Regions from separate parts of the Homo sapiens genome. Here region 1 is linked to region 2. Evidence: fine-mapped expression QTL. A gene starts in region 2. The other region holds a variant in brackets. All regions are shown on one strand. Distances are from middle to middle.

What was found. PIP is the estimated chance that this variant, and not a neighbour inherited with it, causes the effect. A credible set is the group of variants that fine-mapping cannot tell apart.
Region 1: its variant is the best candidate, but not a certain one, in a credible set for the expression of NOS3 in esophagus mucosa (GTEx, PIP 0.63).

The regions. Positions count from the first base shown.
Region 1 is chr7:151,036,091-151,041,454 of GRCh38, forward strand. ABCB8 (ATP binding cassette subfamily B member 8) reads left to right here. Exons shown (of 16, transcript NM_007188.5): 8 at 1-80; 9 at 454-559; 10 at 4,178-4,211; 11 at 4,408-4,544; 12 at 4,738-4,832; 13 at 5,009-5,142. Among named protein-coding and RNA genes, the nearest start is that of ASIC3, 9.8 kb to the right of the region's middle. RefSeq lists enhancers at 3,038-3,822, 3,823-4,606. The variant G/A (reference allele first, on the strand shown) is at 3,205.
Region 2 is chr7:150,988,162-150,993,525 of GRCh38, forward strand. It overlaps NOS3 (nitric oxide synthase 3), which reads left to right and starts at 2,856. Exons shown (of 27, transcript NM_000603.5): 1 at 2,856-3,139. RefSeq lists enhancers at 231-271, 778-937, promoters at 2,208-3,076, 4,018-5,364, 4,585-5,364, cis regulatory regions at 4,078-4,098, 5,105-5,111 and a silencer at 4,815-4,845.

The DNA.
Region 1 (5,364 bases), 48 kb after region 2:
GGAAGCCTGCCGCTGCCGGGCAGAGGAGCTGGGCCGCGGCATCGCCTTGTTCCAAGGGCTTTCCAACATCGCCTTCAACTGTGAGTGAGCCATTTGGGGGCTGGAGGGGCGCTTGTGGGCTGGGGAGGAGCTGGGAGCAGCCAAGGCAGGCAAAGGCCCTCCCTTCATCTGCTGGCTGCCTGCATTCGCCTCGGGCCAGCTGCTAACTCTTGCAGGTAAAGGGAGGGTGCCGATGTCCCAACCCAGCTATGGGACTCCATGTGGAACGCTACAGGGCCACCCTCAAGGAGGCCATGGAGGCGTGCCCACCCCAACTTGCTCTTCCGAGGAGGAAGCCAACGCTGGGACCAGTCATGCGCCTCACCTGACTCTCCCAGTCAGCAGTGGCAGAGCAGGCCCAGGGCTGTTTCCTCTGCCCTGGCTTCGTCCTCCCTCACTTCCCCTCTCCTGCAGGCATGGTCTTGGGTACCCTATTTATTGGGGGCTCCCTTGTGGCCGGACAGCAGCTGACAGGGGGAGACCTCATGTCCTTCCTGGTGGCCTCCCAGACAGTGCAAAGGTAAGTGGGGGCCGTTCCCATTGCTACAGAGCCCCCTGCCGCCCTCCAGAGCCCTGCTGGGTTAGGGGACACGGGTGCCAGCCTTCTCTGGGGGCCGACTGCTGTGCAGCTCCAGGCCTGCCCAGCTTCCCCAGGGATGCATAGGGTGGGGAGAGAGAGCCCCTCAGGGCCCATAACAACCCTCCTGGCTGGGGCAGTGGCGCTGCAGCAGGCAGGTGCTTGTCATCTTCAGCCTTCCAAAGGACCCAGAAGTTTCCTTGACAGGCTTTTTAAAAATTTGTTTCAACTGTGGTAAAGTACACAAAACATAAAATACAGCATTTTAACCATTTTGAAGTGTGCAGCTCATGGGCAGTGGGTGCACTCACATTGCTGTGCGGCTGTTGTCACCGTCCGCCTCCAGAACTCTTACCTGGCAGAGCGGAAACTATCCCCATGACATGGGAATCCCCATTTGCCCTCCCCCAGCCCCTGGCACCCACCATTCCACTTTCTGTCCTTATGATTTGACAACTCTAGGGACGTCCTCTAAGTGGAGTCAGACTATGTCCTTTTGTGACTGCGTTTTGTCACTCCACATTGTGTCCTCAGCTTCCTCCGTGTTGCACCCTGTCCGAATTCCCTTCCGCTGCAGGCTGTGACATTCCATGCATGGAAGGACCATCCTTGACAGGCTGTGTGAGCTGCCCTTCCCCATGCCTGCCACTTCCAGGGATGACAAGCTGACCCCTGTCCCCACACACCCCACCCTTATAGCTTATTGCTTTGCGTTGGTCCAAAACCACCCGCTCAGCTGAGCCTCTGGGATGACCAGAGCTGATCACCAGACAGCTCAAGGCGGGCCTCCCCCCTCCTATCTCTTTCCAAGCTAAACACAAGCAGTTCTACATAAATATGTTATGGTAAATAATGAGATAGTAAATATGCTGTAACAGATCATCAAAGGGTGAAGACCCGTCTCCACGAACCGTGCATCACCTCTGCCACCCCATCCCTCCCCCCACGACCCCCCTGCTCTTCCACCGGGGCCCCCACCCCATTCTACTGAGGCATGTGTCCTCGCCCTGCTGCATGGTGCACCCCTGCGTGTGTGTCCGCCGGATCAGAACCCCTCACTGCAGGGTGTACTGTCCCAGGAAGCGGGAGGCGGACGGAGACAGGCTCCCATTTTCAGCCCCAAACCTGACATTCCACAGAGACGTTCCTCCCATTTCCGCAGCTGCATGGACACCCTCGCGTGCCCCGTTTCTGCTCGTGCTCCCTAATCTGAGCACCTTCAGACCCTTTCTGGTCCCGGGCTCAGGCCTCCTTGGCAGCCTCGCCCTCCTCCAGCCCAAGGAGCTGTTCTGTCGTGGCTTTGGAATTCAGATGCTCTCACTGTGATAGAGATGGGGTCTTGGGGGGCTGGGAGCTGTTCTGTCGTGGCTTTGGAGTTCAGATGCTCTCACTGTGATAGAGATGGGGTCTTGGGGGGCTGCCTCCACCACTGCCTGCCCTGCTCAGCGCTGACCCACTTCCCTTGACCAGAGTTTTGGCCTCTCTGAATGGGACGGTCGTTTTAGTCCTGAGGGCCCATAAGAAGCCCAGTGGCGGCTGGGTGCGGTGGCGCACACCTGTAATCCCAGCACTTTGGGAGGCCGAGGTGGGTGGATCGTGAAGTTAAGAGATCGAGACCATCCTGGCCAACATGGTGAAACCCCGTCTCTACTAAAAATACAAAAATTAGCTGGGCATGGTGGTAGTCCCAGCTACTCGGGAGGCTGAGGCAAGAGAATCGCTTGAACCTGGTAGGCAGAGGTTGCAGTGACCTGAGATTGCGCCACTGCACCCCAGCCTGGCAACAGCAAGACTCCGTCTCAAAAAAAAAAAAAGAAGCCCAGTGGCTCCCTTAATAAAATCACCCCTTAGCCCTCTGTGGTGGGCAGTGGTGGGACAGTCTCCCTGTGGGGAGGGTGGCTGCACTGTCCAGCCCCAACCCTCCCGCTTCGGGACCCCCACTTCCCCTTTAGGGCCTGAGACTCTGACTTTACCTCCCACCGTACTGCTTGGCCATCCAGCAGCTTTATGACACACACAAGAACCCCCAGGGGCTTGTCTGTGCTGTTTCGCTGGCTGCTCCCACAGCCACAGGCCCTAGACCCATCCTCTTGGAGGTCCTTCTAGCGCTGCCTATGTGGAGATTCTTCCCCACTCATCTTGGGGGTTTGGATTTGTTGCATAAAGCAGCTGATGTGTTTCCCACAGGGTCCTGCCAGCTAAGCCAAGGGCCCATGCATTGGCACTGGGGTCTAGCAGAGAGAGGGGAGCAGGATGGCCCGGCCTACCTCAGGCAGCCTAACCTATGAGCCCATCCTGAGTACTCCTGATGGAGATGGGGAGGTGCCCAGACAGACAGCAAGTGGGGCCCAGCCGCCTCATCAGAATCAGGGCCAGGCTCCACCTGGGAACAGGCCCGTAGCCTACAGCCCACGGCCCCTGAGAGCAGGGTCATCACACTCCAATGAGTCATGTGCATTTTGAATTTCAGTTGCTGCCCAGCCCCTTTGCCAGGCCCTAATGTCTTCCAGATCTCTGGTGGAGAATGTGCCCCTGCTCATCAACAGATAGCTGGCTGGGCTGGCTCCTTCCTGCCTGGTGCCTCCCCC[G/A]GCTGCCTTTAGCAAGTGCTGACTGCACTGAGTCCACTGGGACCTTTTCCTTTTGGGTTTCGAGGCTCCTCCCACTCACCCCCACCCTAGTGCTGGAAGAAGTGAGTCTGCAGCTGAAGGGTTGCTGGGGAGTCAGTCTTTCCTCTTACTTAGGAGGGGACCAGGCATACACACACTGTCACAGGTCAGCCAGGCCAGTCAGGGACCAGTGACTCACCTTCCTCCTCAGCCTCCTGGCAGCCGGCCAGCCCTACCCCGGCCCTGCCGGGACGAAGGAGGCCACCCACTGTCTAGACAGATAACACTGTGGGTATACTTATCTGCAGGGCAAGCTCATGAGAAAAATTTTTTTCAGGGAATTTTGTTTTGGGGTCTCCTGAGAGTTCCCCTGTGGCCCAGTGTCTTCTGTTTTCTTCTTTCTCCAAAAAGATTTAACATCACTTCTTCCACCTAAATGTCTGCCAAAGTCATTGCTTCCCCAAGAGTCTGCAGCATTAGATCTGCTCTCCCCTTCTAAGCCACGCACCCTTGATCTCTGTTCATGGTGGCGGCCTCCGCATCCTCAGGGCCGAGCAGGGAGTCCGTGGGTCAGCTGGGCTCCCTTCCTCGTGGGCTGATATCACCGCTGCATGTGTGCACAGGCCTCACCCTGCAGACCACAGGCCAGGGCACTGGAGGACACCCACAGAGGCCTGTGCCTTCACTTCCATTTCCTCGTGGAGCACCCCCTCCCAGGGGCTTGGGCTGAGCTGAGGGACAGCTGTCATCCTCATCTGGCCAAGGAGGGAGCCAGGGCTCAGCGATCTGGTGTTGCTACGTCCCAGGGCTCTACGCCCCCATGGTGCAGGAGCAGTCTCTGCATTTGGCCACAGGCCACCTGCTTCCTTGCTCCCCCGCCCCACCGTGGCTTCCTTCCCCTCCTCTGGCTCTTCTTGTTCCCATCTATTCCACCCCTCTCTCCTTTTTCTGACAGGTCCATGGCCAACCTCTCTGTCCTGTTTGGGCAGGTGAGTGGCCGGTAGGGTGGAGGGCCTGGGGTGTGGAGTTTGTGCCGTGTGTGCCGCTGTGGGAGCTGCCTATTGACTGGGTGTGGGCGGGCAGAGGAGCTGGGGAGACCCCAGCCCAGAGCCATGGCCACTCCCTGGAGATGCTGTTGTCACCCCTACTCCTGCCTCCCTGCGGACTTTGGATCCCCTCCCACAGGTGGTCCGGGGGCTGAGTGCAGGTGCCCGGGTCTTTGAGTACATGGCCCTGAACCCCTGCATCCCACTGTCTGGGGGCTGCTGCGTCCCCAAAGAGCAGCTGCGTGGCTCCGTTACATTTCAGAACGTCTGCTTCAGGTCAGCACGGGTGAGCAGGCGTGGGGATGGGTCCCTGGGCCGGGGATGAGGCGAGTGGATTCGGGGGTGGAGGTCTGGACTAATGTCCCCCATAAACAGGCCCTCTCAGAGGGCTACAGGGAGACTTCAGGAGGGACCCGGGCAACAAGGGCTGGGAGCCTGGTCTGACTGGGGGTCTCTCGGCTCCTCCCAGCTACCCCTGCCGCCCCGGCTTCGAGGTGCTGAAAGACTTCACCCTGACGCTGCCCCCTGGCAAGATCGTGGCCCTCGTGGGCCAGTCTGGCGGAGGTAAGGGGAGCCCACCACCTCTTCACCCTCTGACTCTTCTCTAGCAGCCACTCAGAGCAAGGCCGGGAGCAGTGAGCCCCCGGTGGGGTCCCTTCCTCCACTGCCACAAGGGGCCTTCTTTCCTGGGACAATCCCTAGAATCCCTGGCCTCCCTCCCTCTCAACCCAATTCCCCAGGAAAGACCACCGTGGCTTCCCTGCTGGAGCGCTTCTACGACCCCACGGCAGGCGTGGTGATGCTGGATGGGCGGGACCTGCGCACCCTTGACCCCTCCTGGCTCCGGGGCCAGGTTGTCGGCTTCATCAGCCAGGTGCGGGGCCACATGGGCAGCCCTTGGCTCCCACTGCCCGTCCTCCCCTGGGCCCTGCCCCCTTAGTCCTCAGGTGCCTTTTCTTTCTTTCCCACCCTCATCCTTGCTGCTCTCGGGAGACCCTGGCCGTCTTCACATGTCCTCAGCTGTTGTCTGGGTGAGGCATCCCTGTCGTGGGAGCAGCCACAGCTCTGCCTGGTCTCCCAGAGCAGGGACGCTTTG
Region 2 (5,364 bases):
CACGATCTCAACACCTCCCAAACACCCCGCCTCCTAACACCATCACCTTGGGGGCTAGGATCTCAACTTATGAATTTGTGGGGAAATCAAACGTTCCCCGAAACATTTGTGTGTGTAAGAGAGTATGCATGGATGTATGTGTGTGTGACTGTGCATGCATGCATGTATATATGTGTATGTGTGTGCATGCATGCATGGATATATGTGTAAGAAAGTGTGCATGCATGCATGGATGTATGTGTGTGCGTGTACGTGTGTATGTGAAGATACCTCCTGAGCCTTCGGTTTGACACACCCCATGTGGTCTGTGCAGGAAGCAGGGAGGCGCAGATTTGTCCCAATCTGCTCCTCTGGGGGTGGGCCCAAATGAGCCACCTTGGGACCCCAGATGGCTGGTGTAGACCTACCACCCGATGCCGTTGGCTCCTTTCCTATCCCCTGGGTCTCCCCCTCCCTTCGTGGTGTCTGATCCCACGATTGTGCTGAAATCGCTCCTCCTCGGCTCTCTGCTGCCCTCATGTGGCTGTCTCAAGAAGGGCTGGGGCTACCAGGGGGCGCCCAGGATCAACACAGGAGCCCCTTCAGACCGGCAACCGCGTCCACAGCCCGGAACCCTCAGCATCCCAGAAGCCGCCCCAACGCCCTCACCAAAGGCTCAGCACCAATTCTGCAATCTGGAAGCTGAGCAAATCTCTCCGCCCCCCAGCACTCAGCATGAGTTACATCCTCGGGAGGGGGAGGCCTGGCGGCAGCTGCTCCCCGCCCCTCTCCCGCTGCTCCCGCCTCCCTTCCCTCCTTTCCCCGCTCCCCACCCGTCCTTGCCAGCAGGCAGGAAGGAAGCTGCTCATAGTGCAAGGGTGGGGTACTTCCAGCTCACACTGAACAGCCCCGGGCTGGGCTATAAAGAGTCAGGGACTTCCGCTCAGTCACCCCTGCCCTCACCACCCAGGCCCCCATGCACACACCCCAGGCCCAAGGCCTTCCCTTCCCAGCACAGCCCTCCAAGGTCAAGGCGTCCCCCGCCCAGCCCTGCAGAGCACTCTGGTCTGAGAGGGAAGGCAGGGGCAAGATTTGCCGCCTCTTTGGCATTATGGAGGGGGCAGGGGGCACAGGGCACAGCCCTCCCCAGGGAGGGATCCCTACTCACCCACAGAAGGCTGTCACCTTACCCCTGGGGTCTGGGCCAGCCCTCCCCGAGGCGGAAACACAGCCACTGTCAGGGACAAGGGGGCTCAGTTCCCAACCAGATCATCTCCAAAGCCCATTCAGCTTCAGATCTCATGATTGAAGATGGAAATTCTTTCAGCCGAACACCAAATCTCCAACCTTGAAAACTGTTTTTTCGGAAAGTCCTCTTTAAAACATGGTTACCAATATGAGCAGTCAGCCACTAAGATGCATGGGCATCATTCTTGGCAGGGCTGCAGGCATAGAGCAGGCCAGCACCAGGCAGAGCCCTGGGGACGGCAGGCCTCCTCCGACAGGCGGGGGAATCAACTGTTCTCATCAGAGCACCCTGATGGAAGGCAGGACACTCCGGACAACACTGGCCACGGCCCAAGAAAGGGGAAGCAGGGAATCCCCTGTCCAGAGAGCATTCATCTCTGACTTTTTCTGTCTGTTTAACTTTTTTTTTTCCTCCTTTTCTTAAGACCCTGCCATGGCATCCTCTGCCCCAATTCAAACCCAATCCAGGCCTACTCTGACCCTCAGCTTTCAGCGCTGACTGTACTGAACTGGACCCCATCCTCCCTGTGACCCTCAGCCTTCAGTGCTGGCTGTACTGAACTGTAACCCATCCTCCCTGTGGCCACAGAGTGCTCCTTCTTGCACTCCTCCCCTTCACCTAGACTGACTTCTTTCTGCCCACACAGACCCATCTAGCCTCAGCCAATTCCCTTCTCAGTGGACCCTCTCCATTGCCTCCAGAGCACAGCTTCCAGTCCCCAGGCGGCTGCACACATTTGCAACAAAACAAGCCAATGTATGAAGCAATCCCACTCAGTGCAGGAGCTCAACCCAGCAGAGGATCCCCACAGAGAGGAACTGACCTGTGTCTTCCAGAGCACACAGGTTCAGAGCACACAGGTTCATTTAAGTGAGAACCCACACTTACAGAGCAAGCTGCCCAAAAACCACGACCAGGAGGGCCCAGAGAAAGAGCTGTCCCCGGGGCCTTGGGGACAGGGTGACAGCCACCCAGAGATCATGGAGAAGGGGACGTAAGGAAGACCTCACAGAGGAGTCATCCTGCGACTGTGTTGGTTGGGTCCTTCAGGAAGCAGAGTCCCAGGAGTTGGAAGCATAAGAGGAATACTGCGGGCAATGCCTGAGAAAGATAACAGGGACCGGGAGCAGGAGTGAGTTGGGCAGGGGAAGGATCAGGCCCACAATGCCAGGCTCACACCTGCAGAGGAGGGAAGAAGAAGAAGGGCCTCACATCAGCCCAGCGGGGGATGTTACGCCCACAGACGCCCCGGGGCTCAGTTACTGTCTAAGTGTTAGAAATAAATTTTCGGTGCCACAAAAGAAATAGCACTCAGATATAAATGTTCCCAGCAAGGCAATTTTACTTCTATAGAAGGGTGCATCTCACAGATGGAGCAATGGCAAGAGCACACCTGAACAAGGGAAGGGAAGGGGTTTTTATCCCTAAGGCAGGTAGCCCCTACAGCTGTGTTGTTCCCCTATTGGCTAGGGTTGGACCACACCGTCTGAGCTAATTGTTACTGGCTATTTTAAAGAGAGCAGGGGTAAGAGCCGGATTGGCAGGGTAAGTAGTTTGGCAGGAAGGACGGTCACAGAACAGGTGACTCAGGATGACTCAGGTCAGAGCAGGTGACCAGTGGTGACTCAGTTCGGAGCAGGTGATAGAAGCTAGGAGGGGGTTGTTTACTGAAACTAGGGGCAAGGAGACGAAGAGAACATGAAAGTTAAACTTTAAGATGAAGAACAAAGCTGAACATACTGATGCATTGGATCTTTGGAGAGGATCTCAGAACTCATTGTACTTAATTTACAGGCTAAAACCTTAGAAGAGGAATTTATTATATCCTACACAAGACTCCAGGGAAGCACATGGCCTTGGACTGAAGGCTGGCATCTGGAAGCTGTCAGCCACCAGCACCTTCTGCAGCAGGTACCTGCTCTCTAAGAGGGAGGCCTGGGTGGTGCACCTCCAGAGCTGCCCAGGCTGGGCCTCAAGGAAGAAAAAGATTTTCATTTGTCAGAGGCGGAAGGGAGAGGTGGAGGGAACAGCACAGCAGCGGCCCAGGGGCAGGGAAGCACAGGACCATTAGGGAGACACGAGAAAGCCCATTTGTCTAGAACAGAGGATTCAAGCAGTGCACCAAGGAAAATGAGGGCCAGGCCAATGTGCTGGAGTGGCTTTGTTCTTGGCTGAGGGTTTTGGGTAGTGCCAAAGCGTAAGGTAAGCCCTGCTTTCCAGAAGAATCTAGCAGAGTGTGGAGCCCAGATGGGACTGGAAGGCCTGGGAGGGGTCAGGTGGCCACAGGGACGGGCCACAGCCAGTGGTGCAGGCAAGAAGACAATGGCCATCCATGGTGGCTCACACCTGGAATCCCAGCCCATTGGGAGGTCGAGGCAGGTGGATCACCTGAGGTCAGGAGTTCGAGACCAGCCTGGTCAACATGGTGAAACCCTGTCTCTAATAAAATTATAAAAATTAGCCGGGCGTGGTGGTGGGTACCTGTAATCTCAGCTACTCAGGAGGCTGGGTCAGGAGAATCGCTTGAACCCAGGAGGCGGAGGTTACAGTGAGCTGAGATAGCACCATTGCATTCCAGCCTGGACAACAAAAGCGAGACTCTGTCTCAAAAAAAAAAAAAAATTAGCCAGGCGTGGTGGTGGGTGCCTGTCGTCCTCGGGAGGCTGAGGCATGAGAATCACTCCGGGAGGCAGAGGTTGCAATGAACCAAGATCACACCACTGCACTCCAGCCTGGGTGACAGAGCAAGACTCTGTCTAAAAAAAAAAAAAAGACAGAAGGATGTCAGCATCTGATGCTGCCTGTCACCTTGACCCTGAGGATGCCAGTCACAGCTCCATTAACTGGGACCTAGGAAAATGAGTCATCCTTGGTCATGCACATTTCAAATGGTGGCTTAATATGGAAGCCAGACTTGGGATCTGTTGTCTCCTCCAGCATGGTAGAAGATGCCTGAAAAGTAGGGGCTGGATCCCATCCCCTGCCTCACTGGGAAGGCGAGGTGGTGGGGTGTGGTGGGGCCTCAGGCTTGGGGTCATGGGACAAAGCCCAGGCTGAATGCCGCCCTTCCATCTCCCTCCTCCTGAGACAGGGGCAGCAGGGCACACTAGTGTCCAGGAGCAGCTTATGAGGCCCCTTCACCCTCCATCCTCCAAAACTGGCAGACCCCACCTTCTTGGTGTGACCCCAGAGCTCTGAGCACAGCCCGTTCCTTCCGCCTGCCGGCCCCCCACCCAGGCCCACCCCAACCTTATCCTCCACTGCTTTTCAGAGGAGTCTGGCCAACACAAATCCTCTTGTTTGTTTGTCTGTCTGTCTGCTGCTCCTAGTCTCTGCCTCTCCCAGTCTCTCAGCTTCCGTTTCTTTCTTAAACTTTCTCTCAGTCTCTGAGGTCTCGAAATCACGAGGCTTCGACCCCTGTGGACCAGATGCCCAGCTAGTGGCCTTTCTCCAGCCCCTCAGATGGCACAGAACTACAAACCCCAGCATGCACTCTGGCCTGAAGTGCCTGGAGAGTGCTGGTGTACCCCACCTGCATTCTGGGAACTGTAGTTTCCCTAGTCCCCCATGCTCCCACCAGGGCATCAAGCTCTTCCCTGGCCGGCTGACCCTGCCTCAGCCCTAGTCTCTCTGCTGACCTGCGGCCCCGGGAAGCGTGCGTCACTGAATGACAGGGTGGGGGTGGAGGCACTGGAAGGCAGCTTCCTGCTCTTTTGTGTCCCCCACTTGAGTCATGGGGGTGTGGGGGTTCCAGGAAATTGGGGCTGGGAGGGGAAGGGATACCCTAATGTCAGACTCAAGGACAAAAAGTCACTACATCCTTGCTGGGCCTCTATCCCCAAGAACCCAAAAGGACTCAAGGGTGGGGATCCAGGAGTTCTTGTATGTATGGGGGGAGGTGAAGGAGAGAACCTGCATGACCCTAGAGGTCCCTGTGGTCACTGAGAGTGTGGGCTGCCATCCCCTGCTACAGAAACGGTGCTCACCTTCTGCCCAACCCTCCAGGGAAAGGCACACAGGGGTGAGGCCGAAGGCCCTTCCGTCTGGTGCCACATCACAGAAGGACCTTTATGACCCCCTGGTGGCTCTACCCTGCCACTCCCCAATGCCCCAGCCCCCATGCTGCAGCCCCAGGG